Homo sapiens: one gene and its partners. The protein of the gene in region 4 interacts with the protein of the main gene of each other region in a pairwise test. Each region holds a gene or a part of one and is shown on either strand. Other genes may lie near its edges. The genes, in order: ANAPC4, CDC27, RHOB and NEK2.

Region 1 (7,931 bases), on a different chromosome or scaffold from region 4:
AGCAATGAGGAGCATATATGTTACAAAAACAATTCACTTTTTTTCTTAAAGCACCAATAAAATTTTTAAATACTTTATATTTATCTACAGAAAAATTAAGCAAAGAACAACACATATTTTACAAAAACAGTTCACTTTTTTCTTAAAGTACCAATGATACAAATGAACTTTAAGCTGTAGGGTTTACAGCATTTTACTGTGCTGATTGTATGTGTACAACAGTTCCAATACAGACTGTCATTGTAAAAACATTACATGGAAAAGGAGAGTTCAGTCACCAGAGCCATAACAGGCTTTAACGTAAGAGGGTACCAGAAGAAAGATCACACACAGAAATGGAAGGTATGGGGTCAAAGGTGATAGTCCCCCAGGTGAGGCAAACACACATGCACCAAGGGAATATGAGCCACACATTTCATGCTAAAATATATTGTGAAAGAAAAAGGCCATGATGGCTTTGAACTAACTCACTGGCGAGTGGCAAGTGGTGCTTGGGCCAAATAATACAGGACAAGATGACAGTGGAAAGAACAAAACCAAAACATTTTGTATATTCCATCAGATTTCACTTCGGAGTTATCTTTGCCAAGAAGCCAGATTTTATTTAAGAGATATCTTTGCCAAGAAACAAGATAGCAGAATTAATCTGAGTTCTATAAAAATATTTTAAGGCATTTTTTTTAAAAAGTTCCCAAAGTGATATTTATAATTCTTATGTATACTAAGAACAATAAATCCTTTCTGAAAATGGGCTTTACAGAATACTCTTTGTGAAAATAAAAACATATTTTTTTTGTAATATTATCATTACGTTTGCCATCTGGTCTCCATGCCAGACACGTCACCTCCTTTCCTGTATTTTCATTTGGTGGAAAACTCCAAACTCGATGAAAACTTGCCAGTCGATGAAGTAAAACCTAAGACAAAGCAGATATAATGGCAGGAAATTAAAAATTCATTTCCAAAAATAAAATAAACCTAGATCCCTACTAAAAATTTTTTTAAATGACCATCTCTCATATATACTTAGCTATCAGAAGAATAGAAAAAGACAACAGTGTCTGAATGAACACAAGGTATTTTAAAATAAATGGGTGAAACAAGGTCTAATTTAACCCTGTACCTAATCTTTTATGTCAACGGGAGACTTACCTTTTATAAAGAAGGCGGCTGTCCAAGGTGACAACCAAAAAAGAAATAAAAGAACACAAACACCACTAAAAAGGTAGCTAGCTGTAATACAGTCAAATTATACTAAGCTTGGAATTAGTCCACGTGGCACCTAGTTTCAGCTGTGTCACTCACTAGCCATGGATCTTAGACATATCACTTAACCATTCTAAATCTCCATTTCCACATCAGTAAATTCCCACCTTGGAAGGTCAAAATGTTGCCCAAGAGCTCTATGACTGCCCCGTTGCAGCTTCTATACAACCATTGACAGTAAGGAAGAAAAGGCCTCACCACTGCACATGCTCCTCCAAGACCCCTCCCCATTTCCACACTCAGCTAAGCCACCATGACCCTGCCTTATCTCACAGCTCACAGCACCCTTCACTCCTGGTTACAACATCCCCTGGATTTGACCCTCTCTTTTCTGAAACCACTCCTGCCATACCTTACTTCTGAAACCCTTCCTCTGTGCTTTCTGCAGCTCATGGTCAGGTGTCATCATGAAATTAATATCTTCGTACTTTTCTCTGAAATGTGCCTCTCACCTGAGGACAATGCTTCCCTGCAGCCTTGCTAGGTGGTGGCCATTTTGTATCCCACAGCCCCTGTACTGCTGCTTTTGGGCTAGGAGATGAAGTAGGTGTCTTCCTTGATGCTTGATGCCATTTCTTCTCTTCTTGTAAATCTCCTAACTTTGAATCACATGCAATCAGACCATACCACTCGCTATCCGTCTTAATTGCAGTCCTCTACAGACCCCTAGGCCATTCCCCTCATTCCTTAAAGATCTGGATACCTGGCTTGCTCATGCCTTCTAACAACACACTCATCATCATTTTTGGTGATTTCAAGAGCTATGATGTCCTGGCTTTTCAGCTCTCAATTACCTCTCCTCCAGTGATCACATCTTCTACTGCACTCAGCCACTCCCAGGGTCACACCTCCGGCCTGGTCATTACCAACAACTGCAGGGCCACCAAAATCTCCATTTTAAACTTCCCACTTTCCATCCACCACCCCTCTTTCCAGGTCATCTCTACAACACTCAACTCCAATTCTTTGACCTCACCAGGATACAGTCTATTGATTCTACCACCTGTTCACTGTCCCTCTCCCCACACATGCCTTCACTTCCCTCCTTCATCAGGTTAGAACCCAAAGTTCAGAAACACAATCACTCCTCTTGCACGTAACTTCAACTCTCTTTCATCTTTGCCTTGCTTTGTCATACTTGCAAAACGACAATCCTGGTTAAACCCAACCATGCCTGCACCCACACAGCCAAACAGAACGGAGAGAGACACATACAACCTTATTCAACCAGTGTCTCTCAAATAATAACACCGATCTCATGTGGGTCTTAACACTGACTGGCAATCCTATTAGGTTTCCCAAGTCCACCTGCTTTGTTAGCTTTTTCATACCTCTTCTTTCTCCTCAAACTTCCAATATATTCTTCTCCATCTTCACCCATAAACAATGCCCTTGCTTCTTCCTTCACTGAGAAAATGGATGTAACAGTGCCCTCTATCACGCCTACCCATCTGATTGCACGGATGTGCCTCCCGTCTACCTTCCCTCCTACTTCTGTGACGGTACCACCTGCTGCTCTCTAGAGCCACAACAGAGTTTCAAAGCATCCCGGCAGCGGAGGGAGACTAGCTAGATTTCATGGAGGGCCCTGAAAAATTAGACATCAATACCCTGGCGACTGGATCATGGTAGATAACATGGTGCAGACTACAGTCTGCAGGGTGCTAAGATTTCCTTATCACCTAGTTTCCAAATTTGGCTCTATACAACTCTCACATGGCCAGATAACTCTCAAGCCAGAGGCGGAAAGATGCACAGGTGAAGGTTTCCTTACAAAATGGCTGGCAGGTAATAACTCTCAGCAGAAAGTTGGGTACAACTGGTTTATACTCGATGAAGTTTTATGTGAACAAGAAATGCTGATAACACCCATGCACGTTCTGTCTGGAATCCAATGCATGCCTTCCTTGTCCAATTTAGAGGTATTTTTAGTGGAGGGTGGTTATCCAACCCGTACTATAAAACGTGGACAAGAGAAGCCAGGTTCTTAAATATATCCTGTGTGGCAGCTACATGCAGGCACATTTGCAGCTGAAGTTTGACAATAACTCTTCCTACTGCTATTAAAACTGTAAGCAAACTTAGGGCAGGGTCCCTGCATCTACCATTATGTCTAGCTCATGAGCAGCACATAGTGGGCTTTTTTAAAAAGTTCATTTAACTAATAAACCAATGAGTGAAGAAGACTTGGGGAAGCAGGATTGCGTGACGGTGTTAAGCTGTGTGAAAACTGTTACTTTAGCCATAAAAGTACCGAAAATAGCACAGACATCACCTTTCGCATATATACTTAAAGTTTACTGCCGTCCTGGGAGGCAGGGAAGGGGTAGCAGGTGGCCAGCCATGTCTGCAGAAGGGGAAACTGAGGCTCCGGCCGCCTGTGGCCCGAATGAACAGGCTCGGGCTCGGTGTTCTTGGGCCCCCCGGGAGCAGACCCAGCACAGGCGGGCTCCCGCCGGCTCACTCACCTCGCCAGCTGTGTTGGCCAAAGCAATGAGATCCCGCTTGGGCGACCAGACCAGGAAAATAATCTCCTGCGGGAGCTGCTTCTCTCCCACCACCCGGAAGGATGGGAAACAGGTCGGAAAACGCAACATGGGGACGGCCCTGCAACGACACCCCAGTCAGAGGCCGGCAGGAGCCCCCGGCTCTCCACGAGGAGCCCCGACCGCGCCTGTACCTGCAAGAGTCCCCACCGGCAGACTAACACGGCCCCAGTGGCCTCTCCCCTCCCTCTGCCGGCCGCGCGCCACAGCCTCCAGGCCGCCCCGCCCCGCCGCTGTCGCGCGCTCCAGGCACTTCCGGCGTCGGGACTGCCTCGCGAGAGGAGGAGGAGGGGCGGGGCGCGCACCGGTCTTGGGGGTGCTGAGAGCCAGAAGGGGCGGACAGGGACGGGGCGCGGTGGGCGGGGCAGGGAGGAGCGAGGGGCGGATCGAGGTGGGGGTAGGATGGGGCCCGTGGGCGGGGCAGGGAGCAGCGATGGGGCAGAGCTAGGAAGGGTGGGGCACGCGGGCGGGGCAGGGAGCCCCGAGGGGCGCGGAGAGGGAGGGAGCCGCGCGCCGGACCCAGGTGCTGGTGGGATCGCTGGGCGCCGGGACCTGAAAGGGCCCGAGAAGGGCGGGGCAGGCCCCTGCGGCCACACGCAGGTCTTTTGGGAACCCGTGTGTGCACGTGTGTGGGCATGCTTGCATACCTTTCCCGTTTTCCCGGAAATTCTCTGCTGTGGGCAAAGGGACGGTAGGGGTTTATGGGGTAGGCTTCAGCGACAACGGGGAGATGAAAAAGAATATGAACTTTAGGTCCTGATCAGCTGGCGCCTCCTCTAACAGTTACTAAGCGAGTAGTTCTCATGTCAGTCCTGGTGGGTCAGTATAGAATTTTAAAAGTCCCCCTGTCCAAGCAGCACCCCAAACCAATTAGAAGAAAATTAACCCTGGATGGGCCCAGTATTTACTAAAACTCTTTGGGTGATTCCAATTTGGAGAGAAGAGGCGCGTGCCCTAAAACCTCCCTAACAGGCAAATAATACTGTGACATCTCATCCCATTTAACCCTCACAACTTATTGGTAGTTGCAGCACCGTCATAACGAATAAAGAGTGTGGGCTCAGGGCCGGGCGCGGTGGCTCACGCCTGTAATCCCAGCACTTTGGGAGGCCGTGGCGGACGGATCACAAGGACAGGAGATAGAGCCCATCCTGGCTAACATGGTGAAACCCCGTCTCTACTAAAAAATACAAAAAAGTAGCCAGGCATGGTGGCGGGCACCTGTAGTCCCATCTACTGGGGAGGCTGAGGCAGGAGAATGGCGTGAACCCGGGAGGCGGAGCTTGCAGTGAGGCGGAGCTTGCAGTGAGGCGGGGCTTGCAGTGAGGCGGAGCTTGCAGTGAGCCGAGATTGTGCCACTGCACTCCAGCCTGGGCAACAGAGCCAGACTCCGTCTCTAAAATATAAAAAAAGAGTGTGGGCTCACACACGATTTCTTCTATAGGTACTTGGGCATTTACTATGTGGAGGAACTGAGGCTACAGCAATGCATGGGACGGGAACTCTGCCCAGAGGCTCACAGGCCAGCCTGGCAGACTTGTAAATCAGAACTCATCTGATGTTGCTTTATGTAGGACACATTTAAATGAGTCAACCTGTTGACAGTTCCCACAGCTATGACCTCCCTAAGAGAATGTGACAGTACCATCCTAGGGTTCTTAAACTTAAAACCTATGGTAGAAAGCCATCTACTTTTTACTACCTTTCACTTGTTCAAAGAAGAAACAGACGGCAGGTCCTTTAACTTTCAACAGGCCCCATCTTCTTGACCTCTGTCTGGATCTAGCCCCTGGGAAGTAGATGACGGAGGGAGACTAATTCATTCAGCATCAAGTAACTATTTTGTGCCAAGTACTGTTCTTAATCCTTGACTTTATACCTACCCTGCTTCCTGTCACGGGCTTTGCAGCCCTTGCCTTTGCCACAAACAACTTACCAAGTGCCCCCAACTCTTCCAGAATCAACATTTCTAAGGTAAAAATGCATTTGCCTTTGTTTTTCACAAAATGCATTTTCAGGTGTTAGTGTTTTGGGGCAGTTATAATGGATCACCTGGTGGGGGTCTAGTATCTATGCACATTAACCTTCTTACGGAAATTGAATGTCCATTTTCCTGGAACTTACCTGAATACAAACACCCATACAGCACGTGAAAATCACTGTTCCCAGAGGCATAAACACCGTACTGCAAAGGACAGAGTATAACCACCTGCACATTAAGTCTTCACAGAATATAAATTTTCTAAGCCTTACAGCAAAGGAAACAGCCTAAGTGTGGAGTTCCAGATGTGGGCAGGAAACAGCAGAGTTTTATGCTGCTATAGACCAGGGGTGTCCAATCTTTTGTCTTCCCACATTAGAATCGTCTTGGGCTACACATTAAATACATTAACAGTAATGACAGCTGATGAGCTAAAAAAAAAAAATCACAAAAAAAATCTCACAATGTTTTAAGAAAGTTTATGAATTTGTGTTGGGCTGCATTCAAAGCCCTCCTGGGCCACAGGCTGCGAGTTAGACAAGCTTGCTATAGACCCTCATGTGTGTTGGTAGGCAGTAAGGGGCAGGAATTGTTCTTGGAAATGATCCAAAGTAGCCGTAAGACAAGAAATATTAACACATCGTGTTTCCAGCCTTTTCTTTTTCCCACTGCCCCATAAAGATTTTAGCTCTACCTACTCCGTTTTTTGCCTCCCCCATCCTTAGGAAAATACTGCAGAATAAAGAGAAAAAGGGAAGAAGGCTCAGGGATCGGCTATCAGTGCTTTTTAAGGAGGCAAGGGCAGGAGAAATAAATATTTACTTAAGCATGTTCATTATAAGGTTATTTACGAAAGTGAAAAAATGCAAACAACCTAGATGTCCCATCATAGATTTTTAAAAAATATATCTATCCTGAAGAATATTATGCAGACATAAATCGATGTTCACAGTATACTTATGAAAAAGCATGGGTCATAAAACAGTATGTACTTAAAATTCCATTTTCTTGAGGGAAATTTTTGCATGTGTCTGTAAGCCTATTTATGCAAGAACCTATCTTTGGAACAGTAGACAGGGAAGTTATAATAGTGATTATCTCTGGGTGGTAGGGTTAGAGATGCTTTTATTTTTCCTTGATTTACCTGGCTCATGTATTAACTGTAAAGTTAACAGGCAGCAACCTTTGTTTTCCTCTGTTTTTTTTTTGTTTGTTTGAGACAGTCTCACTCTTGTAGCCCAGGCTGGAGTGCAATGGCGTGATCTCGGCTCACTGCAACCTCTGCCTCCCGGGTTCAAGTGATTATCCTGCCCCGAGTAACTAACTGGGATTACAGGCACCCGCCACCATCCCCGGCTTTGTATTTTTAGTAGAAACGGGGTTTCACCATGTTGGCCACGCTGGTCTCGAACTCCTGACCTCAGGTGATCCACACCCTTCACACCCCCCCCCAACCCTTGGCCTCCCAAAGTGCTGGGATTACAGGTGTGAGCCACCGCACCTGGCCTGTCTTCTTTAAGCATGTGGAATATTTGGGCTGACTTCCTCTAGTGTTCTCCCACTCCTCCTCTCCACACTTGCAGATGAAGAAACTGACCCATCTATTCAGGCCTACCATCTTAGAGATTACCGGCTGTTTCACCTCTTCTAGTATCCAGTGGTATGAAGCAGTTAAACCAGGGATCTTGTAACTAACTGTTCCACCAAAGACAACTGGGATAAAACTCAGCCTCTCAGGGCTCTGAGATCTTGTTGCTCAATGTTGGTGCTATTATAGCCTCATCTTGCTGAGTTAACATTTATACTAAATTGCCTGAAATCAAATAGCAGAGATCTTATCTTTACTTTATTGCAATGACCTTCTTAGTTGACCCTTAATTTCAGCCCAGGTCCTCATGGTCCAACTAAAATCACATCAAATAAGTGAAACTGGATTTTCCTTTAGATTTTGTGGAAGCTGTCCTACCTAGAGAGCTCGAAGTGTATCTGCTTCTTCCATAGTATAGTTAAGGTGTGAGGCATAAAGCGGTATATTAAATGGCATTTCCGTTCACTCAGTTGGTATTTATGAGCACCTACTACCTAGATGGTGAAGAAATGTGTTAGCCTGGCTGCCTGCTTCCCATTAACTGAGGTCA
Region 2 (7,121 bases), on a different chromosome or scaffold from region 4:
TGGGAGGCCTAGGCAGGTAGATTACGTGAGGTCAGGAGTTTAAGACCAGCCTGACCAACATGGTGAAACCTGACCTCTACTAAAAATACAAAAAATTAGCTGGGCATGGTGACACATGCCTGTAATCCCAGCTACTCCAGAGGCTGAGGCACGAGAATCACTTGAACCTGGGAGGCAGAGGTTGCCATGAGCCAAGATCACCCCACTGCACTCCAGCCTGGGCAAGAGAACAAGATTCTGTCTCAGAAAGAAAAAAAAAAAAAAAAAAAAGTAGAAAAAAAAGTAGAAGAACATGAATGGCACTGTGTTGTCTTGATTAAGAGAAATGGCTTCTGAGAGTCCCAAGGCCAGACTAGTCAGTTTTTTACAGACTAGACCTCCATATGCCAATTAGTTAAGGTGACTGTGGACAGTTGTAAAGAGTTGATATAACTCAATTTAAAATCACTGTAAATGAAAGTTAATTAAGCAGTTTATAATCCATTTAATCCCATTATCATTGCTCCAGTCAGAGTGATATTTATTGGAAACTTACTACCTGAAAGATAGAAGCAAGGAATTCTGAAAATAATGTCTGATTATATTAAAAGGAACTCAAAAGCTGGTATGAGTTCATCTGTAGGAAGAAAATGTCCTACCCTTAGAATGAGTTTAGAGCACATAAATCAGGAGCCTAATTTAAATTATAAATATTTAGAATTGTAGAGGCTGGGCGCGGTGGCTCACACCTGTAATCCCAGCACTTTGGGAGGCAGGTGGATCATCTGAGTCAGGAGTTTGAGAGTAGCCTAGCTAACATGGCAAAACCCTGTCTCTACTAAAAATACAAAAATTAGCCAGGGGTGGTGGTGGGCACCTGTAGTCCGAGCTACTCAGGAGACTGAAGCAGGAGAATCGCTTGAACCTGGGAGGTGGAGGTTGCAGTGAGCCAAGATCGTGCCATTGCACTCTAGCCTGGGTAATAGAGTGAGACTCCATCTCAAAAATAAATAAATAAGTATATATATAGTTAGAATTTTATAGTTGAAGCTCACAACTTAATGAAAAATGTAGTGCTGCTGTTTATTTTTAGGTTTACAAGAAGTTAGGTCAAACGCACCTCGCCCTGATGAATTTCTCTTGGGCTATGGATTTAGATCCTAAAGGAGCCAATAACCAGATTAAAGAGGCAATTGATAAGCGTTATCTTCCAGATGATGAGGAGCCAATAACCCAAGAAGAACAGATCAGTAAGTATCATACATATGATTTTGAGTATTTAGAAAGTTACCTTTTGCATAAGGATTTGTAGGCTACTCTTTTATTTTATTTTTCTAACCATGGTGTTTTCATTATACCAAATGGACTTTTAGGGAAATTGAACAGGGTGATGTAATAACAAAATGCATATAAAGTCAGATAATGAGTCTCTGTTCTGGATCTAGTTTGCTGTGTGACTTTGACAAATTCATTGCTAAGTTTTACCTGGACCTCAATTTATGTTTGAATATGTAACCAGTACTGTTTTATCTGCTTCATAAAAATGTAGTTTTTTAAATAACAGAATGGAGAAATTTCTGACAAGATAAATTCTGATTAGATGCCTTTGTTCCAGAAAACTTGGTGAAAGGCTTTAATTAAAATTATAAGCCATGGGGCCAGTCGCAGTGGCTCAGGCCTGTAATTCCAACACTTTGGGAGGTGGAGGTGGGTGGATCACCTGAGGTCAGGAGATGACACCAGCTGACCAACATGGTGAAACCTCGTCTCTACTAAAAATACAAAAATTAGCTGGGCGTGGTTGCGGGCGCCTGTAATCCTAGCTACTCGGGAGGCTGAGACAGGAGAATTGCTTGAACCCAGGAGGCTGAAGTTGCAGTGAGCCGAAATCACGCCATTGCACTCCAACCTGGATGACAAGAATGAAACTCTGTCTCAAAAAAAAAAAAAAAGTATATATATGCCAGGCATGATGGCTTGCGTATGTAATCGCAGCTACTCAGGAGGCTGAGGTGGGAGGATTGCTTGAGCCTAGGATTTCACGACTAGCCAGTGAGACCCTGTCTCTAAACAAATTTTTAAAAGTAGCTGGCTGTGGTGGTACGTGTCTATAGTCCCAGCTACTTGGGAGGCTGAGGCAGGAGAATCATACCACTTGAGCCCAGGAGTTTGAGGCTGCAGTGAGCTATGATTGTGCCACTGCACTCCAGCCTAGGTGACAGAGCAAGATAGATGATTGATTGATTGATTGACTGATAGACTGACCCCATAAACCTTTTGAAACTGAAGGTTATAGTCTGTGTTTCTGTGGACTAGCAGGGAGTATTCTTAAAGTGGAGTCAGTGATTGGAGGTTGGGGGAAATGTCAATTTTTTTTTTTTAATGTCTCAGAGAACTAGCTAGTTGTAATTCCTAGGGCAGGAATAAGGAACTCATTAGGAAGAGGCAGTTTTGGTAGTTAAAACTTAAAGGTAAAATGCAGTAAGCTAATATCAGACCTATTATAAAGTTAGGAAACTTGAGTTGCATTTTATTAAAGGATATGAGGATTTTTAAGGGCCTTTATTTAGGGTTTTATCTCTCTGAATATAATACAATTTTTCTTACTTGTTTTCATGAACCAACAGGACATATTTGTCAGAAAACTTACTGTGGACTTCTGTTTTATTTTTAAAGTGGGAACAGATGAATCCCAGGAGAGCAGCATGACAGATGCGGATGACACACAACTTCATGCAGCTGAAAGTGATGAATTTTAACTTCTGGAAATCAGACTTTTACAACTGGATGTGTGACTAGTGCTGACGTGTTTCTTGTCCCTCTGTATACTGAGTCTTTACTCTTGAGCTGGCGGTGTCATCGTCCGTCACTTATACCATGAGTGTGCCACTTTCATTGGACCCTGACTGTATACAGAATGAAAGGCAGTGCAATATTTAGCTGCTAACAAGACTGGCTCTTTTACCAGTATGAATGACAATTTATGGGGGGTAGGGTGGGGAACTTTCTTTTCTGTTTTTCTTTAATCTCCCTTTGTTGGAAAGTATCATGAAAGGAAGAGTTATGCTTTATCTTGAAGGAACCATTAGATATGGAAAATAGTGATGAACCAGAGTTTCTTGGTTGCTTTTTCAAAAATTTGTTTTTATTTGGTTCTGTTCCTGATAAACAGAGTAACTGACCTTCATTTCTAGGTTCTTCAAGAATGGTGTTTGCAAGTGCCAGATGGAACAATAAAAGACGTTGCCTATAACAGTGACTTGATTGCCAAGGAATGTAAATTACCTTAAACTTGCAGTATCTCCCATAAACAAATGTAATGGGCATATTGGGACTCGTATGTAGGAATCAAATATCCCTCCATACAGTGTACTCTTATTCTTGGCAAGAATGCTTTAATGTCTAACCAAGAATTTTAATTTATTCATCTTGCTTCAAAGTGTTGATCATTGTTGTCTTGGTATTGCAAACTTTAAAATTGTTTCTTACCATATTGCCTCTTCTCTTTGAGCTCTGTGGGATCACCTTTAACATTCAGAGATGATAGAGTGGTTCCCCACTGAGAAGCCAAAACAAGGCCCTTAATAACCCCTTAAGTTCACCATATGAATCAGAAGGAGAACACTAAAGTGGAGAGACTTTTAAGAGATCATGATAGTGAAAGCCTTAATATAATCAGAATTGTACCATAACCTTGAATCTATATTTGTTCAAAACATCCCTTTGACTTTTCTAAGTGTTTGCTTAAGCAGAGTGTAAGAATGTGTGGTTACCTTTGGTTGAGATCCTTTCCATTCTTTTTGACTCTCTGCTTCAGATTTTTTCAGTAGTGTGAGTCACCAAAACATTTACTAAGAGTAATTGGGTTTAGGATGTTGGAAATTTTTAGCTTGGGGGAAAAAACATTCTTATGAAGGAGATAGGTTCTCTTCTGAGTTTGTCATAATATAGATTGGTGTCTTTGGAAAATGGCCACAATTTTAAGAATTCAATTATGCATATAAAATGATAATTATTGGAATTCCACAGTAACAGATTTAAACAGTCTTAAATTGTTTATCTCCTTTACTGTAATGTATTGAAATTTTTAGAGAAATTTTAGTTGTTAACATTTTATTAAGTGCCAGTGTCAGAATATAACAAATTATAGTTTCTTATGAATGACAGGCCTACAGTTATTATTCTGGATTATTTGATGGAGGACAAACTTACCTGTATTTGTTAGTCAAGCTGTGAAAATAAGGTGGATTACAAAAGATGTGAAAAAAATTTTAGTCTGTAGACTCAGTAATTTTCTATAATTTACTGTTAATCTCATTTGAACATGGATTAGGTACAATTTATAAATTAATTCAAGTCAGGGTCTTTAGGTATCAGGTGCCAGAGAGATATTTAACAGATTTCCCTACCTAAATTTATGTATATGTACTGTCTAAAACAATACTTTTTTAAAAAAAAGGAACAGTTGGGAGAAAATAAATATAATGAAAAATTCCCAGAGGCTAGCACTTGGATTCTAACACGTATGCTATTGTATTATCCATTAGTTCTGTAATATTTAATTTTAGATTCTTTTATTTTTTTAATTGGCAAAGCACAAGGTGCTGTATAACAGTGTCATTTAGAGTTTTATAGAAAGCTTCAACCTGAGTTCTGCGTTATAAAGCCTGGAGAAAGCTAAGCTTAGAACATAACTTGCTGAAGTATAATTATCTTTTTGTAGCAGGAATTTATGTGCCAGAGGTGAGAGTCTTTCTGGTACTGATTTTTTGAGACCAAGGATAAAAGGATCGTTTTGTAAGACATGCCATGGCAATGGCTGGTTGGGGGACAGTTTCCGCCCAAGCTTGGCCTATTTTATTTTTCCTCATACCTACTTTCAAAGTCATTTAGGTATTTGAAGCCTTATTTCCCACGTAGTAACACTTTCTGGCTTTTGCAGTTTCTTTTTTTGTTTGGTTTTGTTTTTTGCATGGAATGGGGATCAAACAACCCGAAGAAGAACACATTTTGATCAAGCAAAATGTTTGCTTCAAATTTCAGAAGTTTATTTTACAGAAATTAAATTAAGTAGTTTGACATCCTTTTCTCTGTTTCACACATATATTAGGTTGGTGCATAAGTAATTGTGGTTTTTGCCATGACTTTTATGGCAAAACCTGCAATTACTTTTGCACCAACTTAATACATCTATATACATATATATATACGCGCACACACTTGTTCAGAAGTTATGTTGTGGCCTTGGATTTGTTTTTCCCCTTGGAAATGGTTCTTAACTCTGGGATTTTAGAAGGTTAGAATATTTTTTCAAGAGAACAGTGGTACTCAAAAGAATGAAAGGTGGTCCCTACATTTTCTGTATTCATCACTTAAAATTTTTAATTTTTCCGAGAACTACAAGTAACATTTGAACCATGCTGCTGTTGTACCTTAAACAAAAACTCAGTGATAACCAGTATTTAGTCTATTAAAAATGCTCTTTTTGAAGAAAAAAGTTTGGAAGTCTCTGATTAGCCAGAGTATAGTATGAGTCTTCACTGAGAAATATGGTGACCCATTTTCTTTGTGAAAACCTGGGAAAATGCAAGTGTGGGTATGAAGTGTGTGTTCTGTTTGCATTGAAACAATGTAATTTTGTGTCTTCTTTTTGCTTTAACTGACTTATTTCAGAAATTGTACAGTGTTGAGGGGGAAAGTCTTTTCTGTTAATATATTTGCAATTCATTAAAGGATATGGAAAATCCAAATAAGTTACTTTTGAAAGCAATTTATAATCAAGTTGTTAAAGCTATATGAAAGCTGTGCCATCTGTATTTTAATAAGAAGGCACAGAAAAACAGAGATACAGTTTTATGTTTCACAAAAAACTAGAGCAATGTTTATCTAATTTTTTAAAACTTACACTCTTAATATATTTATATTTTTAAACGGTCATACTCTTTTTTAGTATTATTTGGAATATCAAAATAAATACTATGACAAAAACAATGGTAATTTTTAGAATACCTTTTTTCAAACTACAGAAGCCCCTTACCAACCAGCAGCTGCGAATTTGCAAGTCAACTGCTTATTCTTTGATCACGTGATTTCTGAAATTTCTTCAAAAGGGACACAAAGGTTTTTTTGTTCCAATTAGAATCTATTTAAAAAGGTCAGGATCTGAAAGAAGTAAGATGTAGAAACTAAATTTTACTCTAATTTGAAATTTTTTTTTTTTTGGTATCTTGGAGAAAGTACAAAGAGCTGAAGGGTTTTATTCAGACTTGAAGAAAAGGCAGTAACAGGGAAAAACATGTGAAGGTGGGGTGAGCTGGGCAGTTCCAAGGGGAACAATGCAGACCTCATAACCTTCCCTAGGACCTGCCATTTAATGTCAGCTGAACAAGGATAAACAGCAGCTTAGACATGGAGCTATTCTTTGGCTTGTTTAGCTGACAACTTATGGTTCATGAAGGTTCAGTATAGGTTTTATTTTTCTTTGTAAGTGCAAACTTTGTTTAAAAGCTATGTTTGCTGAGATCCTGGTCTATGGATTGTGTTACTTGCTTTGTGGATGGTATTTTCAATTCTCATCACTAGAAGGTAGGTATTACTTCATTTTACAAAACAGAAAACAGGCTCAGCTATTAAATGATAAAACTGGGCACTTTTGGCATTAGTGTATGTTCAGAATCTTATATTTTAGTTTTGGACTTCCTCTGGAGGTTTCAAGTCATATTTAATGGTAACTGTAAGTTGTCTTCTCTAGCATTTTTTTAAAGACAGTCTCGCTCTGCCCCGCATCCTGGAGTGCAGTAGTATGATCATAGCTCACTGCAGCCTCGAACTCCTGGACTCAAGCAATCCTCCCACCTCAGCCACCCAGGTAGCCAGGACTAAACATGCACCACGACACCTGGCTCATTTTTTATTTTTTATTTTTGTAGAGTCAGGGTATTGCTATGTTGCCCAGGCTAATCTCAAACTCCTGGCCTCAAGCAATCCTCCCACCTCAGCCTCCCAAAGCACTGAGATTATAAGCGTGAGTCACCTCACCCAGCCCTCTAGCCTTTTTTTTTTTTTTTTTTTTTTTTTGAGATAGAGTTTCGCTCTTGTTGCCCAGGCTGGAGTGCAGTGGCGCGATCTCGACTCACCGCAAC
Region 3 (7,006 bases), on a different chromosome or scaffold from region 4:
AACTTCCTGGGATATTGTGTAAACCCCTTGATGGCCTGAAGGGAACCCAGTAAACAGGCTTCCTGATAGCGTGACCCCACACCAACGATTAATAAAGGTTTTCTAAATTTAAAATGCACAAATGATAACTTTCCAAGACTCAAAGAATAAGCAAAGCCCCATAATAGACTTAAAGACACAAGTGTTTTTAAGACACACAGATGAATGAAATCAAGATCTTCGGTCTCACCCAATTGAACTGAGTACATAATAGGTCAAAAGTTTTTGCACTGGGTGTCGGGGTATCCACTCATCTTCCTCTAGGAATGTGACAGGAACAACCTGGTCTCCCTTGGTCACCCAACCCCCACATGCTCTCAAAGGGACTTCATCCTCATTTACTACATTTGCTATAAGGGAAACGGAGTTGGCAAGAAAGGATCTCGCCTAGGAGAATATCTCCCTTGTTCCAAATTCACAAGGGTATTTTTACACACTATTAAACCACAAGAGCCATTTTATAAATGTCATCATCATAGTCTTTTAATATTTTACATAAAAAACTGTATACACAGCTTATAGAACTTTTATGTAAACATCATAAGCTCACCATTTTGTCATTTGTCAGTTTATTTAAAAAATAAAAAACAAGACAACAATTTAGTAGAAGTACCACTGGGAGGGAGGGGAGGGGAAAAAAGGATATACAGGGGCAGGTGTATTCTCTGTACAGAGGTGCAGAGAAAATTTCACATAGCTTTAGAGAATGCCTTGTGGAAAAAAAAAAAATAGGCCCCAATACTTGTTACTGCCCTTTATCAAAACTGTGTGCATGACCTGCACAAATAAAATCACAAAACAGTGTTGCCACATTCTTCAAGGAAACAAAGCAAAATTTAGTGGGTTTCTTTTCCCTCTCCTTGTTAAAAGTCATTTTTTAAAAACATCAGAAGTAGATGAGGTTACAGCGTACAAGTGTGGTCAGAATGCTACTGTCGTATGCAAATGACGAGTGCATTAAGTGTCAAACAATGAAACAATTGTGCAAAGAATAAAAAAACAAATTTTAGCCTTTAAATAAATCAAATAACATCAGTTTCTTGGACTGAACAATTTTCACTTCTAGGACAGGCACAAAGTTCGCTTATGGCAAAAACAACCCCACAGCGCATCCTCCCTCCTCCCTCCGGTAGCTGGTGGAGGGTTCGCAGCGGGCTGGCCCGCAGGAGAGGCTGTGCTGAAGCTGTGTCCTCCCCAAGTCAGTTGCAAATGTCTTCCCCAGGGGTTGGAAAGATGGTCAAGTCCTGTTCATGCTTGGGCGGGAGTCTGGCCCAGCCTGGGCCAGAGCGCTCACCCATCACCACCCTTAAATAACACCATCTTAGCTCCGAAAATAAAATTATATCTATATTTATATAACATCCCCCCATCCTCCCCAGCAGCCCTCCCCTCCCGCAGTACCCGGGGTCTATGTTACAGACAAGGGATATCAAGCTCCCGCTGGTGAAGGGCGAACATCTGATGGGGCGCGGCCACACTCCCGCGCCAATCTCGCCCCCGGGGATCAGAGGCGGGGGTGGGGTGAAAATGGGGCGAGGGGAGTCGAACAGACACACAGCCACACACTCTGAGGCCCGGCTCTTCAGAAAAGCATGCTCAGGGGACCCTTGGCACTCAGTGGGGAGCCCAGGCCTGTGCAACACAGCTGGACGCACACAGACACTGGGATGGGGGCGCCCGGTGCCCACGCCAAGTCCTGGCGCAAGCCAGAGGCGTCAGCAGACAGATGCCAGGCAGGCCGGTGGGGTCCTTGTGGGACACGGGTCTCCCCTTCTCCGGGCTCGCGGGGGACTGGTCCAGGAGGGGGAGCCGTGCCGGCAGGGGCAGGCGCGACGGGCGCGGCCCTCATAGCACCTTGCAGCAGTTGATGCAGCCGTTCTGGGAGCCGTAGCGCTTCTGCAGCGCGGCGCGCGTGGCCGTCTCGAAGACCTCGCGCACGCCTTCCTTGGTCTTGGCAGAGCACTCGAGGTAGTCGTAGGCTTGGATGCGCACGGCCATGGCGCGGCCGTCATCCGTGCGCACGGGTTCCTGCTTCATGCGGGCCAGCTCTGTGCGGACATGCTCGTCGCTGCGCAGGTCTTTTTTGTTGGCCACCAGGATGATGGGCACATTGGGACAGAAGTGCTTCACCTCGGGGACCCACTTCTCGGGGATGTTCTCCAGCGAGTCCGGGCTGTCCACCGAGAAGCACATGAGAATGACGTCGGTGTCCGGGTAGGAGAGCGGCCGCAGGCGGTCGTAGTCCTCCTGGCCCGCCGTGTCCCACAGCGCCAGCTCCACCTGCTTGCCGTCCACCTCAATGTCGGCCACATAGTTCTCGAAGACGGTGGGCACGTACACCTCGGGGAACTCGTCCTTACTGAACACGATCAGCAGGCACGTCTTGCCACACGCGCCGTCGCCCACCACCACCAGCTTCTTGCGGATGGCCGCCATGAGCGGGCCGGGCCCGGGCAGCAGGAGGGGGCCCGCGAACGCCTCGCTGCCCTCCCGCTCGCCGCTCACTGCTCACCTCGGGCTGCGCGCAGGTGGCGAGAGGGTCGCTAGCTGCACCCGGGCCCCGCGGTGGCGCGTTCTCTCGCTGCGCTTCGGCTGCCGCGGCGGGGGCGGTGGGGGCGCGGGGGCATAGGGCGCACCGTGCGTCTCGCCGCGCTGCTCCCGGGCGGTGGTCGCTCTGCTCACCCCAGGCCGGGGATCGGCGGCTTTGTGCGTAACGCGGGCTCGGGCAGCAGACTCGGGCGGTGGACTCGGCCTAGCTCTCTCCCGGGTCTCTCCGGGCCTCGCTGAGCATACAAGACAACAGCTCCAACCAGACTGCGGTGGCAGATGAGGGCTGCGGCCCTAGCGCCCGCTATTTAAAGAGTCCGGCCACTTTCTTAATATAGCCGTCCAATGGGAAACCAGCCGGCTGAGCTCATCGCTGCGGAGCTTAGCTCTGATTGGCCGCCCCCTGCAGCCCGAGGGCGGGGCAGGGCCAGCTTGATTGACGGCCCAGGCCGCCGGGCTGGGAGAGGCAGCGACCGGGGAGTCCGCGCTGCTGCTGCCGCTGCGGGGCTCTGGCGGTACCCGGGTCCCCTCCTTCGCCGCAGCGTTTGCGCGCGGGGTCCGGGAGCTGGCTGTCTGGAGCCTCCAGGGTCTGGGCGAGCGGTTCCGAGACAGGCTTCACTCAGTGGGGCGTTGGCGACTCCCATTCAGAATTGCCCCTCTTCCTGGCAAACTCCCGGCGGGTGGTCGGGCCTGTGGGGGAGGGGCAGCTCTTTTAACGTGGTTTTGTTTTTAAATAAACAGACACACACACACACACACACACACACACACCCCACACACACACTTTTGTTCCCAAACAAGAGTGTTTTCTCTTTTCTTTTGGAGGTGGCCCCTCCTGTGGTTTAGGGCCCCACCCGGGTACTCGCCGTGGGCCAGCCTCGGGTTTGGACCCGAGAGGCGACCGGCTGGCTGCAAACTGGCTCTTCCAAGTCCCGCCGCCCCTACCCTTCCCAACCCCCAGCTTAGGTCTCTAGGTGAAGATTAAGGGAAGAGGTGCGGAGTGGCCCAAGCTTGACAACGGAAAGGGAAGGTCGAGGCTCGAACACTTGGAGGAAGTTACCGGACAGGAAGAAGCCCCTTCGGCCCCTCTTTTCACTATGAACTCTGATCCCGGTTCTTAAAACAGAGAACTGTCTGAGATAAATTGTACAATAGAATATACACTATTGTACAATAGAATGTACAATAGAATATACACTATTGTACAATAGAATGTACAATAGAATATACACTATTGTACAATAGAATGTACAATAGAATATACACTTGTACAATAGAATGTACAATAGAATATACACTATTGTACAATAGAATGTACAATAGAATATACACTATTGTACAATAGAATGTACAATAGAATATACACTATTGTACAATAGAATGTACAATAGAATATACACTATTGTACAATAGAATGTACAATAGAATATACACTATTGTACAATAGAACGTACAATATTCCGGGTTCAATAGAATCCAACCACCCCAAGACCCCTGAGCAGACGAAAAGGCTTGAGGCTGGAGAAGAGGGGAGGAGTAAGGGGCTAGCAAATGGGGCACAGCGGGTTAGGGGGTGTCCCCTCTATTGGGGCGTAGCCTCCTGATGCACGCCAGGACTGAACTCATTTATCCTGTAGATCCTGCATGAAATGACAGTACCGGTGATCCGGAAAGACCCAAGTCAACCGATTTCTACGGATAAAAGAGGAAGAAGGGGATAGGGGGAAAGGGGAGTCGGGGAGGGCTCCCGGGCAGGAGAAACAGCCTGAACACAAGCAGGAAGGTGGGAAGGAGCGGGGCAAACTCTAGGAGCTGCATATGCTGGGGCTCATGAGTGCTAAAGTATTAACAGCATGGGCTGGGCTCTGTCTATCCATTGCATGGGAAATGTCTGCAAACTGTTTTTTCAGCAAAGGAGGGACCCACCACATGACCGGGAGGTGGTTGCCTCCTGTCTCCGTCTCTGTCTCGGTCTCTGTCAGTTGTTGGAGGGCCAGGATTCTGTCTTATCTCCGCATCTTGAAGACCCAGCACAATGCCTGGCATTTACAAGGATCAGTAAATGACTGTGGGGAATTAACCCGAATGCTCAGAAACGCAGGTGGAATTTTCTGGGGGTTTCTTACCTCAGTTCCACACTTCGCTTTAACAATTATCTAACCAGGCCGGGCACAGTACCTCATGCCTGTGATCCCTGGGCGTGGGAGGCCCAGGCTGGAGAATTGTTTGAGCTCAGGAGTTCAAGACCAGCCTGGGTAACATGACAAAACCCCGTCCCTGTCCCTGAGAAAAATAAAATGGGATGGCGTGGGGAGGAGAGTGGCCTGCACCTATAATCTCAACTACTCAGGAGGCTGAGGTGGGAGGATTGCTTGAGCCCAGGAGGGCAAGGCTGCAGTGAGCTATGATCACAACACCCCACTCCAGCCTGGGTGACAGAATGAGACCCTGGCTCAAAAGAAAAAAAAAAAGTAAACATTAAAAAGAAAATCATTAAGCAAACCCATGCAGCCAACTGTGACTGAACCCCGGTGTTTTCACATGTAATTCATATGTTAAGAGCTAGGTCCCCATATGGCTCCACAGATGAAATCAGATCAAATAAGGCAGTAGTGCTGCTAAGCCTAGAGCCCTTCCTAGAGGGAACGTCTTATTTAGACGACTGGAAGTGCTGTGCTTCCCTCAGACTGGATTCACATCACTACAACAACCGGCCAACCAGCTTTTTTTTGTTGTTGTTGGCCGGGGCGGTGGGGGGCGGGGGTTTGTTTTTCAGATCTAAGGAACTGATCTGTCAGCAAGTAAATAGTTTTTCTGTTCATTGATTTAAGGATGCAATCTGGAAGCTTTTTTTTTTTCCTATTAGAAAAGTCTTATTTACACAAATTTTTCTTCTTTTAGTCAAAACCTTTTATAGCTGTATTGTTAACGCCGCTTTCCTTGGTCTTAATATAGCTTGGGAAACTTGGCTATGTCCTTAAACTTCAAATACCAAGAAATATGAAACAAAGCTTTGTACCATGTGTTTTTTTCTTTAAAAAACAAAGAATCCGGAAAACGGATTGAACTCCTTCGTGTTCTGATTTCCAGGAATATTATATGAGGTGTTCCAAGCTCAAATCTCAATATTGCAATAATTTCTAAAACTATGCAGTTGGTAAAAATGCCAAAGTAAACAAATAGATCTGTGTTCTGCAGTAACTTCTTTAGTAACTTCTTTTCATGGTATTTTTTTTTTTTTAGTCCAGGATACTTTGACAAGCTCTGCAGAGACTGGCTGCTTCCAAGACTGCCCCACACACAGGATAAACTTTTCCCAACTAGGTGATATGCCGGACAAGCCCCTCCCTGTCCCTTGCCCTTCATAATACACTTCCTCAGACAGGGATAAAATTTGATTCTTCTATGAGAACAAGTCATTTTATTTTATTTTATTTTTTGAGACAGAGTCCTACTCTGTCACCCAGGCTGGAGTGCAGTGGTATGATCTTGGCTCACTGTAACCTCGGCCTCCTGGGTTCAAGCAGTTCTCCTGCCTCAGACCCCCGAGTAGCTGGGATTACAGGCGTGTGACACCATGCCTGGCTAATTTTTGTATTTTCAGTACACAGGGTTTTCCCTTGTTGGCCAGGCTGGTCTCAAATTCCTGACTTCAAGTGATCCACCCACTTAGACCTCCCCAAGTGCTGGGATTACAGGCGTGAGCCACCGCCACCAGCCAAGAACAAGTCATGTTAACAATTAACTTTATTAACATATTCATCTTATGACATAATATATCCACACCTGTGAGACAGGGAAGTTGTATTTCAGACAAAAGGAGGATATTAATCTATCTCTAATCTTTAACCTAATTTATTTGGTTTTGTTTGTTTGCCAGGTGTCTCCTGTAAATCATTCTACACTCCTCAAAGACCAGAGCAGAGTTGGAATTTTCATTAGATTTTAGTGCCACCTTGCGGCAATCTTTATGGGGTCTTTTTCTTAAAAAAAAAAAAAGAAAGAAAAGAAAAGAAAACCTTTGGTCAAAAAGTATGCATTTTATGGATATTTTTATTTTAAAATATTTCAGAGCATATAAAACTCTGAATAATGTTTTACAAGTAGATTCTTAGAAATTCTTCATATGTATTTATACACACATAACTTTTTCATATACACTTTACAAAAATATTAACGAAAATGCCATTCAGTGGAAAAAAAAATTCCTTCCTAAATAGTAACTTCTAAAAGAAATTAGAAGAGAAAGATAAAGTCTATGGATCTTCACTAACTTACAGACTAATGGACTTCACTTTTCGTTTATTATAATGTACAGAAATTTAAAACAACTTTAGCCACAAAAATCATTCCGTTTTTGCCCCAGTTAAGAAAGCCATTGCTGGATACTCTGGTATAGTTAGAAGTAATAATAATTCAT
Region 4 (8,028 bases):
CACTATGCCTGGCTAATTTTTGTATGTTTAGTAGAGACAGGGTTTCATCATGTTGACCAGGCTGGTCTCGAACTCCTGACCTCAAGCGATCTGCTCACCTCAGTCTCCCAAAGTGTTGGGATTACAGGCGTGAGCCACCATGCCCAGCCAAAACATCTTTTAATGTTAAGCATTCTGAAGCAGGGAAATTGAGTTTTCTGTTTGTTTAGTAATATCTAGTAGCCAAGAATTGAAAATACTGTTATATTTTTCCACATGGACCACCAGACCAATAAAGTCTATATCAGTTTTTGTTTGCTGCATGAGTTATGTGCATTAATGTAAGTATGATGAAGACAGATTCCTAGTCTAAGGTTTGCGCCGTTTGTCATCTCTCACTGGGTTCAATTTTTTGAGCATTCATGCAAATTAAAGCATATTCAGTTCAAGCTTTTATGGAATGACTATGATGCATTAAACTCAAGGATTACAAAAATGAAATGGATTTTGTCCTTGCCCTCAAGAGTTGTTTCCCAATGTGTAGGTCCTAGTTATCTGCATCAGACTCACTTGGAGTGTTTGTTTAAAATGCAGAGTTCTGGGTCCCAAACCCAAACCCAAATCCATCGAGTGAATTTCGATCTCTGGGTGGGTTCTTGAACTCTGTTTTTTTTTTTTTTTAATATTTTACTTTTTATTTTAGACTTTGCATTTAAGAGGCTCTGTAAATGATTCTTGTGTATGCAGAATCAGAGCTCAGGAAGTTTGCTCACTTCAGATAGCATGTTTTTACAATGTTAACTTTTTGTACATTTTATTTTTTTGTTGCCTATCCCTGAAATATCTTGCTGAGTCCACTCACCAATTACCTCTATTGCTGGATATTTTGTTTCCAACATGTTTCACCATTCTTAGAAGTACTGCTCTGCATATCTTTGTATGAATTATTCTTTCTTCCTTTTTGGTTATTTCCTTGGAGTGTAGCTCATAAAATGAAATTGCTGGGGTAAATGTTTATGGCTGTTATTAGATATTGTCTGATGGCTTTTAAAAAGTTTAAGTCAATTGTGATAGCACTAATGTGTTAGTATATAACATCTGAACAGATAAAGATGAAGAAATATTTGTTAGTATTTTAGTAGTTCACCTTTCTAGGATTTTCCAAATATTTATAAATTATGTTAACAGATCTTACTATAGTATAAAACTTTGTAAATTAATGATTTTGGTTTTGACTAAAAATAGCCAGAACAGTACCATTTTCTCACTGTATCAAATTCCAAATAGAATGTTTTTAACATAAAGGACAATTATCCAGAAGTGGTTCTTGGGAAATTTGAAACCTATTCTTTTGTTCCTTTTCCCTCCTGCCCTTGTAATTAGAGTGGTTCAGCTTTCCTAAGGCACTGATTGTCAAAAAGTGGCATCAGACTCACCAGTTGGACTTTAAAACACTAACCAGCCACTAGAGATTGCTTCTATTCCCTCTGTTGAGAATAGGAGCTCTGGTAGGCTGTTGTTACTGTAGATGTGGAAGAAAGGCAAACAATAAAATAGGTAAGGATAATATTAGTTACTACTGTGATTTATGGAGTGGACTAAGACAAAATATAAATGGATAATTCAATTAGCTATTTATGTCTATATCCATTTAAATGTGGACTAGATACATATTTTGACTATTCTTAAATTTCCTCTAGTTCTTTTAAAATGGTGTTTCTTAATTTGCCTTGAGAGTAGAAGTCTCTCATATTCACCTCTGTATTGTCAGTGCCTAGTCTATACTAAGCACTTTCATTTGTGAATGGAAAATGAGTGAATGAATTATGTATGATGGAGTGTATTGGAACAAGATCATTGCCTTTTTTCCATTATAAATTTCAAGATAAAGTATAAGCTAAAAACTTTGAGGTTCTGTTTTTATCTCAGGAGTAATTTAATGTGTTTTTTAAGTTTCAAAACAAAATAAACTCTTAACACCTTCCACTTTCTTACCCTTTTTCCCTGTATAGGAACAAATGAATCGCATGTCCTACAATGAGAAATCAGATATCTGGTCATTGGGCTGCTTGCTGTATGAGTTATGTGCATTAATGTAAGTATGATGAAGACAGATTCCTAGTCTAAGGTTTGTACTGTTTGTCACATTTCACTGGGTTCAGTTTTTTGAGCCTCTGTGCTAACGAAAGTATATTCAAGTCTGAAAGAATTGTACCCTGGGTAAAATTAAGGTAGATAGATGAACAGGCTAAAAGAAACTATTCACAAATTAAAACTATAAGCCATGAGGCTGGGTCTTGACTGTTCAAGGGTCTTGGCTGGTTAGGTGCTTTCTTATTAGATTGACACTTAGCTCAAGGGAGAGCACATAGGTCAGGCAGGTAAGGTAAAGCTACTGTAAGGATGTGGAAGAAATGAAACAAGACTCGGGTAGAGGTCTGGGGATCTGTAGAGCAGGGAAGAGCTCCAATTCTTTTCCTTTGTTCTTCTTTTCATTTTCTTTCCCTTTGAAACTATTCTGTAGAGCAGTGATTCTCAACTAGGGATAAGGGAAGCAAATTTGCCTCTTATGGGGCATTTGATGATGTTTGGATAAATTTTTAGTTATCACAGCTGGGGAGTGCTTCTGGCATCTAGAGGGTAGAGGGCAGGGAGGCTACAAAATACCTATAATGCACAGGACAGCCCCCCACAACAAAGAATTATATGACCTCAAATGTCAATAGTGCCAAGGTTGGGAAACTTACTTATAAGAAGAAAATCCCAGAAGTAGAAACTTAAATACAAACTGGAGCTTAAGCTGTGCTTTTGATTTAGTTCCTATTGTATATTTTCATTTTTACAATTTGAAAATGTCTTCGTCGTCTTCTTCTTCTTTTTTAACCCTAGGCCTCCATTTACAGCTTTTAGCCAGAAAGAACTCGCTGGGAAAATCAGAGAAGGCAAATTCAGGCGAATTCCATACCGTTACTCTGATGAATTGAATGAAATTATTACGAGGATGTTAAACTTAAAGGTAAAGATGATAAGATGATATATTGTCTGTTTCTAGCTGTCAGTTAAGTGTCAGAGCATACATTCTCTCTTGTAGATCAATGGAGACTGAAGAAACGTTAAATATACTTTCTTAGCTAAATTTACTGTGTTAACACAAGTGAAAACATATGTAAATTTGGCAAATTGCACATCCTTGCTGGCCCACCTTCTGCGCTTTCTTTATTTCTCCTCCCACTCTGTCATGCTAACAGATGGTCGGTAGCAAGGAAAGATTGCAAAAAGAATTCAAATTCTCGTTCCCCTTGTCCTTGCCTACCTCACAGTGGCAGGTAGTGAGGGAAGGGGCCAGAAATAAGAGTTTATTACTCTGCCTCTAGCTCTAATTGAGAGATTAAAGACCAGAAGAAGGGGAGGGGTGATGGAGGGCGGACGGAGGACAGCTAAAAACAGAGGGAAAATCAATAAAGAGATTATGTGGAAAAACTCTGGCTATAGAATGGGGAAGGAGATGTTCTGGGGACCAGGCTGACATAAGAGAAGAAGGAAAATGCCGTAGGATCACAGAGAAGGATACAGATGAAGTGACAGGATTGAGAGTCAGTGAGAGAGTATCTTGCTAAATGTAGTTTAGAAATGCAAGGGCAGTACTTCCCCTAAAACAGACCCTAGCAATGCTACCAAGCCCCAGCACAAGATGTGCCAATCTTCAGGGATTGAACCTTCTTAGAAAGGTGAAAAGGGGAAAAGGGAAAAAAGGTAAGTTAACATCTGCATTACCTTGTGGACCCAGAACCTCATGAGTTAAAACCACCAGTGAACTTATTTTTCCAAGTTTTTAAGACCTAGCCATAAAGGAGTCCTTTCTTTTGTCTTGGAAACACATTTTTGTCCTTTTATTTTAACTGCTGTCTTAGGAGGACTATTCTGTTATGCAATCTGACTATAATACTGAGTATTTTTTCCCCAGGATTACCATCGACCTTCTGTTGAAGAAATTCTTGAGAACCCTTTAATAGCAGATTTGGTTGCAGACGAGCAAAGAAGAAATCTTGAGAGAAGAGGGCGACAATTAGGAGAGCCAGAAAAATCGCAGGATTCCAGCCCTGTATTGAGTGAGCTGAAACTGAAGGAAATTCAGTTACAGGAGCGAGAGCGAGCTCTCAAAGCAAGAGAAGAAAGATTGGAGCGTAAGTCTGAATGGGGGTCAAAGCAAAGGAGAACTACCAAGTGGGTTATTTTGATGTGTCTGAATATCTCTTTGAGCAGAATATTTTATACATACAGATCTTATTAGAAGCTTTTGAAAAATACTTGAGAAACCAAAATATGTATTTTAGACTTTTTAATAATCAGGCTTGCTGGCACCTTCATGTTGGACATCTTTCTCTGAGATCAGTTGCTAGTTATATATTATTGGGCCTTAACTGTGATGGCCCTAATACGATAGCCTTGTATTTTACTCTAGAGTTACTTTTTTCTTTTTCGTCTCTACTGTGAATACCCTAATGTTTTCCCACTGTAAAGGAAGGTCTTAAAATTGCTGCTTTCCATAATAAAAAACCATGACTTTTGTCTTTTGAAATGGCCACTCCAACAGAATTCCAGGTCTAAAACCCTACAGTATGTAGATGAGATATGTTCAGGCAATTCTTTTCTTTTTTTTTAACTTTTTATTTTTGAAAATGAGATGGGGTCTCACTATATTACCCAGGCTGGTCTTGAACTCCTGAGCTCAAGTGATCCTCCCATCTTACCTCCCAAAGTGCTGGGATTATAGGTGTGACCTACCACACCTGGTCTGTTCAGGCAGTTCAATAGAGAATCTAGATACAAGATATTTTAAGTCTATAAATAATACTCTGGTGGGTATTAACATTGACTTATGAGTATTAACTGATTAGATGCTAATTTAGTTTTGATATTGAAAGTGTGTCTACTCCACCAAGATGAGAGCTACTCGCAAGCATTTAGGGTTATGCAAGGTAGCTACAGAGTGAGGTTCTTCATTTTAACATCAGGAGACGAGAGATGGGGTCGTATTTGTGACCTGTCACCCTCATGACTCACCTGATTTTACTTCTGCAGCTTTATGCCCAATCCAGGCTTTAAATAATGAAATATTGTATAGTCCTGTGAGATATGCTTACTGTATAGGTACAACCTATACTTACTTGGAAACCTCTGTAAAAAATAAGAAAGCTTTTTCTTATAACTTTCCCCAGTGTTTCATAATTTCTTTTCTTTTTTTTTTTTGAGATGGAATTTCACTCTTGTTGCCCAGGCTGAAGTGCAGTGGCACCATCTTGGTTCATTGCAACCTCTACCTCCCGGGTTCAAGCAATTCTCCTGCCTCAGCCTCCTGAGTAGCTGGGATTACAGGCGCCTGCCACCATGCCTGGCTAATTTTTGATTTTTTAGTAGAGATGGGGTTTTGCCATGTTGACCTGGCTGGTCTTGAACTCCTGACATCAGGTGATCCACCTGCCTCGGCCTCCCAAAGTGTTGGGATTACAGGCGTGAGCCACTGTGACCAGCCATAATTTCATATAGCAACTGAAATCTGAATACTTTCTGAATTTGGGGCCATGAATAAATAGTAACATTTGTTATTAATACTAATCCTATGAACTACCACCTAACTGAATTGTGTTTTTTTTCTTTTGTTTGGGTGTGGTCATTCAACCAGAAGAAGGAGATTTTTGTACTGTGAGGCCAGATCATGCCCTGAAAATTAGCTGTTGCTTATCTTCAGTGAAGAGCAGAGATAGCTTTAGTTTTTTGTTTTCCCAAATGAGTTACTCCCACAAAAGATGACCAAAGGTTGAAGCTAACTTTGTATTTGTTTAAACAAGTCCTTTCAAGAAAATCTAAGATAACATACAGCCTACTAAAACACTCAATTAAAAACTAACATAATCAGGTTGACTGAGGCATAGTGAGAATCCTTTCCCCAAACATTGCTTATCAGTATCAGGCATGCTAGTAGTGATAAGATTGCCAAATGTAAATTGTTTTTTAGTCAAGGTCAGTTGTTAATTTTTTTTTCTTTGTCCATTCTCTTTTTAAAGAGAAAGAACAGGAGCTTTGTGTTCGTGAGAGACTAGCAGAGGACAAACTGGCTAGAGCAGAAAATCTGTTGAAGAACTACAGCTTGCTAAAGGAACGGAAGTTCCTGTCTCTGGCAAGTAATCCAGGTATGAGAATCAACTTGGTCAACAGAAGCTGGTGCTACAAATGAAGAAATGTGCACCAGTGTTGCTCCCAAAGTGGCTTAGGTAGCCCTTTTCATTTACAAATCTCAAATTTTAAGATGGATTTCATTGAATATATGCATTTCAATGGAAACAAAATTCTGTTATAGCAATGATTTATTTCCTGGGTTCATAGACCTGAGGCAATGAGTCATAGAATTTCATGTTTGATTTTCTTTACCTTATCAAACTACATGTTTAGTAATTGATACTTATTTTTATTATCATTATTTATTTTTTTATTTTTTTTGAGATGGAGTCTCACTCTGTAGCCCAGGCTGGAGTGCAGTGGCACAATCTCGGCTCACTGCAAGCTCTGCCTCCCGGGTTCACGCCATTCTTCTGCCTCAGCCTCCCAAGTAGCTGGGACTACAGACACCCGCCACCAAGCCCGGCTAATTTTTGTATTTTTAGTAGAGACGGGGTTTCACCGTGTTAGCCAGGATGGTCTCGATTTCCTGACCTCGTGATCCGCCTGCCTCGGCCTCCCAATGTGCTGGGATTACAGGCATGAGACACCGTGCCCAGCCGATACTTATTTTTAAAAATTAGGGCATTTACAAAACTATTGTATGTTTCAGATTTCAGAGAGATAAACTGCATTTCAAGTAAAAATAAACATTTTAATATTGCCATGCCTCATTTTTCATAGAAAGCATGGCTTAAAAGGCATGATAAGCCACCTGCAGAATAGGCTGTCACGTTTGGATCTTTGCTAACACCCTTTCAAGTTGAAAGACATATTTGTTGAAATTTGATTGTTTAATATCTACATATGTTCTCTGCATTTCCTTCTTTATTTAAAGTCTGGTATATAGATATTCAGCTTTCTCAGGGCCCTGCCTTTGTGTGGCATTGTCCCTTCACTCTGCCGCACTGAGATGTGGTTATCGTATATACCAGTGAACCATTGTCTAACATTCTCCATTTTATAGAAACCCTCAATCTAATTTAATCGACTCTTTAAGATTATGTAAAATGCAAACTGTGAAACATCTTTTTGCTTGATTTATGACACAAACTAACTGTTAAAAGTTGTTGGTTTCAAAAATCGAGCATCTGAATTTTCAATAAAATTTAGAGTTTTTATAACTCCCTTATTCCATGTAGGACAGCATATATGAAAGCTATTATTCCCATCTTTAATAAATTGAGATGTAGTGTGATCAATTTAGTGAGCATTGGCAGCATTTTGTAAATGGAACAGACAAAAAACCCTACTTAAGTTAGATTGATGATCACAATAACTTTGTAGTGAATAAGTGATGGAAAGAAATGAAACTACTGATAGAAGTAAATGAAACAAGGATTATATGAAACTTTGGCTTCATCTCTGTTAAAATACCTTCTTTTTTCCCAATATTGCAGTCTACCATTTCAATATTATAAAAATATTTATTCTGGCTTTTCATAGATTCCACACTGTCATCCATAAAGACAAAATAGACTTAAATCATGATTAGGGTGATAAAATGAGGAGAAAATTTTACCTGGATGAATTTCATGCATCAAACCCATTGCAGAGAATTACTTAAGACCCTGTTGGGGATGGCTGTTCGGTTAAAGAGTTTATTTACATTTGCCCTGATAGTCTTTGAGCAAAAGATGAAAATAGCTAAGTAAGGATGATGTGTTTTACTTTATAGGATACACAGATAAGTATGGGAATCTACTTATATGTGAATCATGGCAAATATTTAAAATGAGCCATAGGAATCAAGTATCCACTGGGGCAAGCAGACATTTTAGGGTATTGAGTGCTGAAAGTAGTGAACACATCAGAGCTATAAGATAAGCATCA

The links.
Region 1: the proteins of NEK2 (region 4) and ANAPC4 interact in binary tests that used the Homo sapiens proteins (3 or more experiments, as listed by UniProt).
Region 2: the proteins of NEK2 (region 4) and CDC27 interact in binary tests that used the Homo sapiens proteins (3 or more experiments, as listed by UniProt).
Region 3: the proteins of NEK2 (region 4) and RHOB interact in a two-hybrid assay, tested with the Homo sapiens proteins (one study listed by IntAct).

What each region holds. Positions count from the first base shown.
Region 1 is NC_000004.12:25,373,360-25,381,290, reverse strand, and holds the start of ANAPC4 (anaphase-promoting complex subunit 4), read right to left. Parts: upstream 4,029-7,931; 5' UTR 3,947-4,028; intron 3,874-3,946; 5' UTR 3,864-3,873; coding exon 3,735-3,863; intron 918-3,734; coding exon 812-917; intron 1-811. UniProt on the Homo sapiens protein: Component of the anaphase promoting complex/cyclosome (APC/C), a cell cycle-regulated E3 ubiquitin ligase that controls progression through mitosis and the G1 phase of the cell cycle.
Region 2 is NC_000017.11:47,116,552-47,123,672, reverse strand, and holds the end of CDC27 (cell division cycle protein 27 homolog), read left to right. Parts: intron 1-1,053; coding exon of another isoform or gene 1,054-1,072; coding exon 1,073-1,229; intron 1,230-2,655; coding exon 2,656-2,738; 3' UTR 2,739-5,970; downstream 5,971-7,121. UniProt on the Homo sapiens protein: Component of the anaphase promoting complex/cyclosome (APC/C), a cell cycle-regulated E3 ubiquitin ligase that controls progression through mitosis and the G1 phase of the cell cycle.
Region 3 is NC_000002.12:20,442,935-20,449,940, reverse strand, and holds RHOB (rho-related GTP-binding protein RhoB), read right to left. Parts: upstream 2,868-7,006; 5' UTR 2,476-2,867; coding exon 1,885-2,475; 3' UTR 501-1,884; downstream 1-500. UniProt on the Homo sapiens protein: Mediates apoptosis in neoplastically transformed cells after DNA damage. Not essential for development but affects cell adhesion and growth factor signaling in transformed cells. Plays a negative role in tumorigenesis as deletion causes tumor formation.
Region 4 is NC_000001.11:211,665,248-211,673,275, reverse strand, and holds part of NEK2 (serine/threonine-protein kinase Nek2), read left to right. Parts: intron 1-1,991; coding exon 1,992-2,074; intron 2,075-2,868; coding exon 2,869-2,995; intron 2,996-3,943; coding exon 3,944-4,163; intron 4,164-6,044; coding exon 6,045-6,170; coding exon of another isoform or gene 6,171-6,214; exon of another isoform or gene 6,215-6,859; intron 6,860-8,028. UniProt on the Homo sapiens protein: Protein kinase which is involved in the control of centrosome separation and bipolar spindle formation in mitotic cells and chromatin condensation in meiotic cells.